Regions from separate parts of the Homo sapiens genome. Here region 1 is reported to be linked to region 2. Evidence: microRNA targets listed by miRTarBase, many of them from high-throughput screens and not tested one by one. Region 2 holds a microRNA gene; the other region holds the end of a gene's coding sequence.

Region 1 (4,000 bases), not on the chromosome of region 2:
CCCGCGCCAGCCTGCCCGAGGAGGAGGGTGTTAGGGGGAAGTTAGCCGAGACTGCGGACTGTGCCCTTGACGGTGTGGCCTTCGTGCTGCGGGCCTCACTCTGTGCCCGGGGTGTTGGCTGCAGAGAGGGCCCTGGGCCACCTCACATCCCCCTTGCCCTTCCTCCACGGGAGGCTCACGAAGCACTGGGATTGATGGGGTTTCAAACCTAGGCCTCGTGGGCTGTGGAAGGTCTTGCTGTGTTGATGTGGGCGCAGGAAGCCACTGGGGCTCCGATTCCACTTGTCTGATGTATAGAAAAGATGGGGGACCTTTGGCCGCTCAGATTTGGGGACAGTGTGACTGACTGGAGAGCGGTTGTGCAGTAACTGAGTCTGTGTTTCTCTCCCCAGCACATGATTAAGTACCGGTACATCCCGTTCACACATGGGAAGAGAAGGTACAGAGGCAAGGAGGATGCCGGCAAGGCCTTCGCCAGCTAGAAGCGGGACTGAGGCTGCCTCACGTGTTGCAAGAACAGTTTTGAGCCATTGTTAACAATGCCTTTTTTCTTCACATAAAGTAGTTGATTACGAGGGAGTCAAATTTTCTTTTTAAAAAGGAGCTTCAATGATTTGTAACTGAAATATCAGGTTCTAGAAGAAACTGGCGCTTAAACCAAATCGCATGGATTTCTTTTTCAGTGACGTTCAAGTGTTTCTCACGGATGGAATTCTAGTCAGCTGCAGGCGGGAAGCCAGGCGGGTGGAGCCCATGGGAGCAAGGGCGAGTGGCCGGTCCCCGCTGTGCCAGGTGGGCAGGCAGGAGCAAGGCCTGCGAGGGAGGAACGGGCCGCTCCCCGCCAGCCGCCTTCCCCAGCAGCCGCAGGTGGTGCCAGCCACTCCACAGAGCCCGAGGGATGATCTAGCCTGATTCCTGCGTGTCCGAAAGAACTTAACGTTTTAAAGGTGATTGTCAAGTAACTGTGTGGGGTTCTAATGCCAGTTTCCTAATTCCATCTCACTGGAGATGTTTAAAGTTGGCCTCTATCCTAATGACTCAAAACTTGGTTCTTAACTACCATGATTGCTTTTGAGGGCCCGGAATTATAAATATATATTATATTTTAATTGTTTGAGATTATTTTGACACATTTCTTTGATACGTAGAGTGTTTTGTTTTTAATTTAAATCTGTCCTCATGCAACCCTCCATGAGGGGCAGCGAAGCTGGCAGGGAGCAGACTGGCTTTGTAGGTTCAGCACTCGGCCCCCCACTGCGGGAGAGGCGGAACCCACTTGCATGTCAGCGTTTTTGATTCGAGAAAAGAAATACTCTCAACGTTTTACCAAGTGATTTTACCTCCACCTTTACTAAAGTCTTTACCTAAAACATGGCAGTCGCTGGACACAGGAAAGCCCACCTTTTGTTTGGCCTTTTCGAAAGGTGACCCATATTGCACAGCAGAACATCACAGCTGTGGTCCCAGATGAGACACTGACATGCGAGTGAAGGCCTCTCCTCCTGGGCCCCGGGCTGCGCAGGCTCCTCACTCTGGGCGGTGTTTCCTGTCTCAGAATTGACACGGTGAATGCTTAGTGTCTGGATTTTCTTGTACCAGTGTTTACATATCTGACATCGAGCTCCTCTAAGAGGCCACGTTCAAGCTTGTGTGTCCCTGACCCAAGATAGCCAGTGCTGCTCCCAGGTGGTACTTCTGGTACCGTGTTGAGACACTTGGGATTCTCAGACTGTGGACAGGAGTGTTTGTCATTTTTCATACTGTTTTCTTAATAAGCGCTCAGGCCTAAGGTGTGACAGGAAGTCGCACGCGCTTGGCCAGAGCACAGTGAAGCAAAGGACTGGGTGCTGATGGATGGAGCCACGGCGGCATCTGCCCACCCGGCCGCAGCCCCCAGTGCCTCTCCTGGTGGTCCTCCCAGTCTAGAGGGTCACGGCCCCCCCGCCCTCCTCCGTCTCTGGCAAGCTGACCTTGACTAACCCAGGAATACAGGGTCATCCTCATTCCTAAGTAAGTCAAACAGCAAGACATGGTTTGCGCGGGTCTTTGCCGGAAGCCGGTCCTGCTGGCCAGGTGTTTTACGTCAGCAGGGAAATGTGGCACACGCCCTCGAGGCATTTTAACACTGCGCTTCAGGAAATCTCAAGTTCCATCTTGTGTTAGTAACGTACCCACATTTTGCTGGAGTTAGTTTATTAAAGATGCCTACGGTGAACTCTCTGGCGCAGGTTAAATGCAGTTTTGAAAACCTGGAAACATCAAATGGAGGCGGGAAATAGGCTGGGGCCGAGCTGAGGGGCTGAACACAGCAGTGACCGTGGGTCAGCAGGTCGCCTGCCCAGCAGGCCCCCCAGGAGAGGGCTCGGGCGCCCCTGGCAGCCCCCATACCCCCAGGACCTGGCTCGTGAGTGCGTCTGGGTCAGGAAGAGACCTCTCTGTGCGTCTCAGGCTGAGATGCAGATTTCTGTTTTCTAAAACTGGAAGCGACCTTGACGTGTATTGAAGGTGTGTGTGCCAAATGCTTCCGACGGAGGTGCTGGCCTTGGTTGGTTTCTCTCTGCCCCGTGTGGTCATCAAGTCCTGGGGGATGTGCTCTGCCCAGCCGCCCTCGGGGAGAGCAGCGCCGCCTCCCATGGGGCCGTGGGGCTGCTGTTCTCACTGCACTGGCTGAAGCAACCCGCCAGCCTCCGTGCCCCACCCCACCCAGCACGCACTCATTCAGTCCATTGCCTTAACACAAGCCTGATGGGGCTGTTTTCTCACAATATAAACGAATAAAGTGTCTTCTGGCCTACTTCTGAATTACTTCTCAACTGTATGGTTTGGGGAAGGGAGGGAAACCTAAAATCCCGTCCAAATAAGTGAAATTCCTGAAGAAGTGGCTGAGTCCTACCAGGTTGGGGTTAGGGAAATGTTCTGGGTTCAGGCGCCCCTCCCAGGGCTGAGAAAGCGCAGCCAGGGACAGCTTTCTGTTCTCTCCCAGGGTGGCTAGGTTAGTATCTTACATGACAAAAAACTGAGAGTGTTCTAACTTCTGTGCAAGCAAGGTTAATCCTGAGACTAAATCTTGGCGTTCAGACTCCCGTAGAGGTCATCTGTGTCCAGGCCCACCCGGGCGCCGGCTCAGCGGTAGTGCCGAAGGTAGATGAGCTTCTGGGGAGGGAACTTCTCCCGGCAGAGGGGACACTCCGCCTGCGGAGAGGAGAAAGGGGGTCACAGCAGCTGGGGCCACTGGGCCATGCCCATCCCCATCGGCATTTCTTTTCCTGTCCACATTCTCTGCACATGACACACAACATAAATGTTGTATTTCCTTCAACTAATGACCAAGAAAGCCAGCCTTTTTTCAGAAGGCCGAGTCCCAGTGGGGGCTGGGGCGGGGCTGGGGGCGTAGGGCTCAGGGTGTGGGGCTCGGCCGGGAGGTTCCCTCCTGCTCCCGCAGCTGACACAGCCCACGAAGCCCAGCTCCTGGGAAAGCGTGCGCTCTCACCCTGCCGGCATCTTCGGTGGGTGTGAGTCAGTGTGCTAGGGTTTTCAAGTGTGGTGAGGACCCCGGGAGGAAGGGTGTGCTGGGATGCGTGGTGCAAGCGTGGGGCCTTTCAGGGCTGGCCACTACCCCAACCTGCATTCGGCAAAGCCTCAATACACGTGAATTTGGAACTTTAACCCCCTCAACGAACCCACATCTGACCTACCTGGGAGCCTTTAAAAAGATGCCCACCTCTGTACCCTCAAAACTGGAGGGTGCTCAGAGCCAGACTCCCCACTTCTGCTGCAGCCAGGTGCATCTTGCCGGCACAGCCGCTGACCACCCCAGGACGGCAGCAGGCTCCCACCTCACCTTGCTGCTGCACCACGCGGTGATGCACTCCCAGCAGAACAGGTGGCCGCAGGGCGTGGCTGTTGGGTGCCTGCGCTCCTCCAGGCACAGGGTGCACAGGGGGTTTCTGGAAACGGCTCTCTCCTCCAAGGAGGCCCTGGGGAAGGTGGGGCAGAGCGT
Region 2 (4,240 bases):
AACAATAGAAATTTATTCAAAAAAAAAAAATTTATTCCTCATAGTTCTGGAGGCTGGGAGGTCCAAGATCAAGGCACCAGCATTCTGGTCTGGTGAGGACCTTCTTGCCGCATCCTCACACAGCAGAAGGACAAGCTAGCCCAACACTGCATGATGTCTCTTTAAAAAGGGTCTTCGGCCAGGTGTGGTGGCTCACGCCTGTAATCCCAGCACTTTGGGAGGCCAAGGCAGGTGGATCACGAGGTCAGGAGTTCAAGACCAGCCTGGCCAAGATGGTGAAACCTCATCTCTACTAAAAATACAAAAATTAGCCGGGCGTGGTGGCGGGCGCCTGTAATCCCAGCTACTCGGGAGGCTGAGGCAGAGAATTGCTTGAACCTGGGAGGCGGAGGTTGTGGTTAGCCGAGCCAAGATCGCACCACTGCACTGCAGCCTGGCCGACAGAGCGAGACTCCATCTCAAAAAAAAAGGGCCTTCATCCCATTAACAAGGGAGAAGCCCTCATGGCCCAATCACATTTTTTTTTTTTTTTTAAGATGAGAGTTTCGCTCTTGTTGCCCAGGCTGGAGTGCAATGGCACGATCTCGGCTCACTGCAACCTCCGCCTCCCGGGTTCAAGCGATTATCTTGCCTCAGCCTCCTGAGTAGCTGGGATTACAGGTGCCTGCCACCACGCCCAGCTAATGTTTGTATTTTTAGTAGAGACAGGATGTCGCCATGTTGGCCAGGCTGGTCTTGAACTCCTGACCTTGGGTGATCCACCCGCCTTGGTCTCTCAAAGTGCTGGGATTACAGGTGTGAGCCACCGCGCCTGGCCAGGCCCAATCAATTCCTAAAGGCCCTACCTTTTTTTTTTTTTTTTTTTTTGAGACGGAGTCTCACTCTGTCGCCAGGCTGGAGTGCAGTGACGTGATCTCAGCTCACTGCAACCTCCGCGTCCCGGGTTCAAGTGATCCTCCTGCCTCAGCCTCCCGAGTAGCTGAGACTACAGGTGTGTGGCACCATGCCCAGCTATTTTTTTTTTGAGATGGAGTTTTGCTCTTGGTGCCCAGGCTGGAGTGCAATGGCGTGATCTCAGCTCACCACAACCTCCGTCTCCTGGGTTCAAGCGATCCTCCTGCCTCAGCCTCCTGAGTAGCTGGGATTATAGGCATGTGCCACCATGCCCGGCTAATTTTGCATTTTTAGTAGAGACGGGGTTTCTCCATGTTGGTTAGGCTGGTCCCGAACTCCCGACCTCAGGTGATCCACCCGCCTCGGCCTCCCAAGTAGCTGGGATTACAGGTATGAGCCACTGCGCCTGGTAATTTTTTGTATTTTTAGTAGAGACGGGGTTTCACCATGTTGGCCAGGATGGTCTCGATCTCTTGACCTTGTGATTCGCCCACCTTGGCCTCCCAAAGTGCTGGGATTACACGTGTGAGCCACTGCACCCAGCCCCGACCTCTTAATACTATCATACTGGCCACACCTGAATTTTGGAGGGGACACAATCAAACCATAGCACCACCTTTACTGACTTGTGTCTAACTTAAATTCTTCTTGTACATTGTAAAGTACTTAATAATCCAATTGGCGTGAGTTACTTTATTCTTATTTCACCACATCCATTATACTTGGGAGGCTAGGTGACTGCTTAGCCCAGTGAAATACACACTGTCAGAACTCTTTATTCCTCATCTAATGATAATATTCTGATTGGGCTTGGTTTCCTCCCAGGGTGGACAGTGTTTCCCAGTTATGTTAGTCCCCATTTCAGGCCCCTGCTGGTGACTGAACAAGACCATTGGCTGATTTGCTCTCAAGTCAACCACTGGTGATTCCTGTAAAAGTACATGGCAACAATGGAAATACCATTGCTGTCTCAGAGGAAGGGATGGACTTGTGCCTGTGGGTCTTCCTATGACCCTACTGTTCAGCCATGTGTTCTCACTGGGCCCAAATGTCAATTGCCTTTGTGGGAACCAAACCCCAGACCTCACAAATGGACAATTAATGGAGCTCAGTCAATTAAGTAACTGGGCCTTTTTGCTGGTCCTGGCCATGCTTTCAGCCATTCAAAGAACATCATTAAATTTAAAATAACATAGCAATTCTTAGTATTAAAGTCTACAACCTTGAGAGATATCAGAGCATGGGTTGAAAATAGCATGCAACAAGACCTCGCTCTCCCTTCTCTTCCCCCTCAATCTACAATAAGGTTTTCTGGAGCCACCCATAATTCAAGGTGGTGGCAGGGACCTCATTACTCTCATTTCCTGCCACAAAAATCCCCCATGGTGAGAGACAGGACATTGTACAGTCTTCTCCACTCAGGCAACAGATTTCTTCCGCTTCTTCCAATCCAGCTCCTATGACAATTGGCTGGGGTGGCTGAGGCTGTGGGGCTGGAGTCAAATCCAAAATGAAAGACCAGCACCAATTCCTCCTACCACCCAAGCCCAGGTCCTGAGGATGCAGCTTCATACACCACGGCTTGTGTGAAGACTCTGGGGACTTTTGACATAGTTGTTCGGTGGCAGGCAGGCTAAGCAATCCTCTGTGTATATTTGATAGCACCCTCTTTCCCATCACAGCGCATGTAACACAAAACACTCACATGCAAGCTCCTCTCACAGGCATGCCAATTCAGGCACACTAGCTGTGAGGCCACTCCTCTCTTTCCCACTCAAAAAAAACCCATAGTGGATTAGCCGGGCATGGTGGTGCATGCCTGTGGTCCCAGCTACTCGGGAGGCTGAGGCAGGAGGATTAGTTGAACCCAGGAGGTGGAGGCTACAGTGAGCTGAAATTGATTGCATCACTGTACTCCAGCCTGGGCGACAGAGTGAGAGCCTGTCTCAAAAAAAAAACAAAGCACAGTAGGATGCAAGGGAGTAAGTGGTGAGTGATTTATGATAGGGATAATCCTGAATCCACTGGAATTCCCTGCTCCTCTCCTCTCCTCCCCTCCCCTCCCTTCCTCCATTCCTTCCTTCCTTCCTTCCACTGGAATTCCCTCCCTCCCTCCTCCCTTCCTTCCTTCCTTTTTATTTCTTTCTCTCTTTCTCTCTTTATTTACTTTCTTTTTCTTTCCTTTCCTTTCTCTCTCTCTTTTTTTTTTTTTGTGAGACAGGGTGTTGCTCTGTCACCCAGCCTGCAGTAGTGCAGTGGCTCGATCAGGGTTCACCGCAGCCTCAACTTCCCAGGCTCAAGTAATCTTCCCACTTTAGGCCACCCACCGACCAAGTAGCTGAGACTACAGGTGTGCGCCACAGCACCAGTTAATTTTTTCTTTTTTGAGATGGAGTTTTGCTCTGGTTGCCCAGGCTGGAGTGCAAAGGCGAGATCTCAGCTCACTGCAACCTCTGCCTCCTGGGTTCAAGCGATTCTCCTGCCTCAGCCTCCTGAGTAGCTGGGATTACAGGCATGCGCCACCATGCCTGGCTAATTTTGTCTTTTTACTAGAGACGGGGTTTCTCCATGTTGGTCAGGCTGGTCTCGAACTCTTGATCTGAGGTGATCCACCTGCCTTGGCCCCCGAAAGTGTTGGAATTACAGGCGTTAGCCACCGCGCCCGGCCACTAGTTAATTTTTTTTAAATTTCAGTAGAGATGAGGTCTCACTATGTTGTTCAGCCTCGAATTTTGTTTCTCAAAGTGAAACACAATTATGAGTAATAAAGGACCCAGAATCCCTTCACAGCCATAACAGCATGCTTGACAACTGCTGCTGCCTAGCTTGGGGGTTTCCAGCCTTGAGGTTGAGCCTACCCTAGGCTTAGCAGGAGGCCAGAGCTGAGCTGAGAACAGAGCCCAGGATGATTATCACTCCTAATCCATGAGGTACCAAGATGTGGTTCTGTGTGACACCTTGAGATGGCTGAGTACTCTCAGTCCCTATTTATTCTTAGCAAAGCAAACCACAAGCCTGCAAGCTGCTTGATGACTTAGGGCATCAGTGTTCAGAAGGTCTCTATGGGGACTGATGTCCTGAGGTGACTAGACGCTTCCAGACATCAGTGCCCGTGGCACCCAGATGACACTTCTCGCGAGGCTCCCGTTTTTCTGCAGACTAGGCTGTCTCTTCATAACAGAGCCTAGTTTCCATCAAAATGCCCTGACTTCTCGAGAGGACAAGTGCTAATCTTTTTTATTTTTTCCATGCCCACGGCCGGTCAGAGAAGACCTATCTCTACCTACCATGCTCCAGATAGCCTTACCCTTGAGCCAGATTTGTCTAAGATGGTGATGGTGATAAC

The links. The annotated mature microRNA hsa-miR-766-3p reads ACUCCAGCCCCACAGCCUCAGC and lies in region 2 at 2,373-2,394, opposite strand. An mRNA with a match to its seed (bases 2 to 7 or 8) in the 3' UTR can be bound and repressed. Matches are read on the target gene's strand: a 7mer-m8 pairs with bases 2 to 8, a 7mer-A1 pairs with bases 2 to 7 and ends in A, and an 8mer does both.
Region 1: the mRNA of RER1 is a reported target of hsa-miR-766-3p. Seed matches in the 3' UTR shown: 7mer-A1 at 1,003-1,009 and 7mer-m8 at 2,181-2,187.

What each region holds. Positions count from the first base shown.
Region 1 is chr1:2,402,643-2,406,642 of GRCh38, forward strand. It overlaps RER1 (retention in endoplasmic reticulum sorting receptor 1), which reads left to right. Exons shown (of 7, transcript NM_007033.5): 7 at 393-2,794. The coding sequence ends at 482. PEX10 (peroxisomal biogenesis factor 10) reads right to left here. Exons shown (of 6, transcript NM_002617.4): 5 at 3,842-3,977; 6 at 1,332-3,192. The coding sequence ends at 3,124. Among named protein-coding and RNA genes, the nearest start is that of PEX10, 7.9 kb to the right of the region's middle.
Region 2 is chrX:119,644,391-119,648,630 of GRCh38, forward strand. It overlaps MIR766 (microRNA 766), which reads right to left and starts at 2,458; the gene lies at 2,348-2,458. All of the region lies in intron 5 of SEPTIN6 (septin 6), which reads right to left. RefSeq lists an enhancer at 3,512-3,691.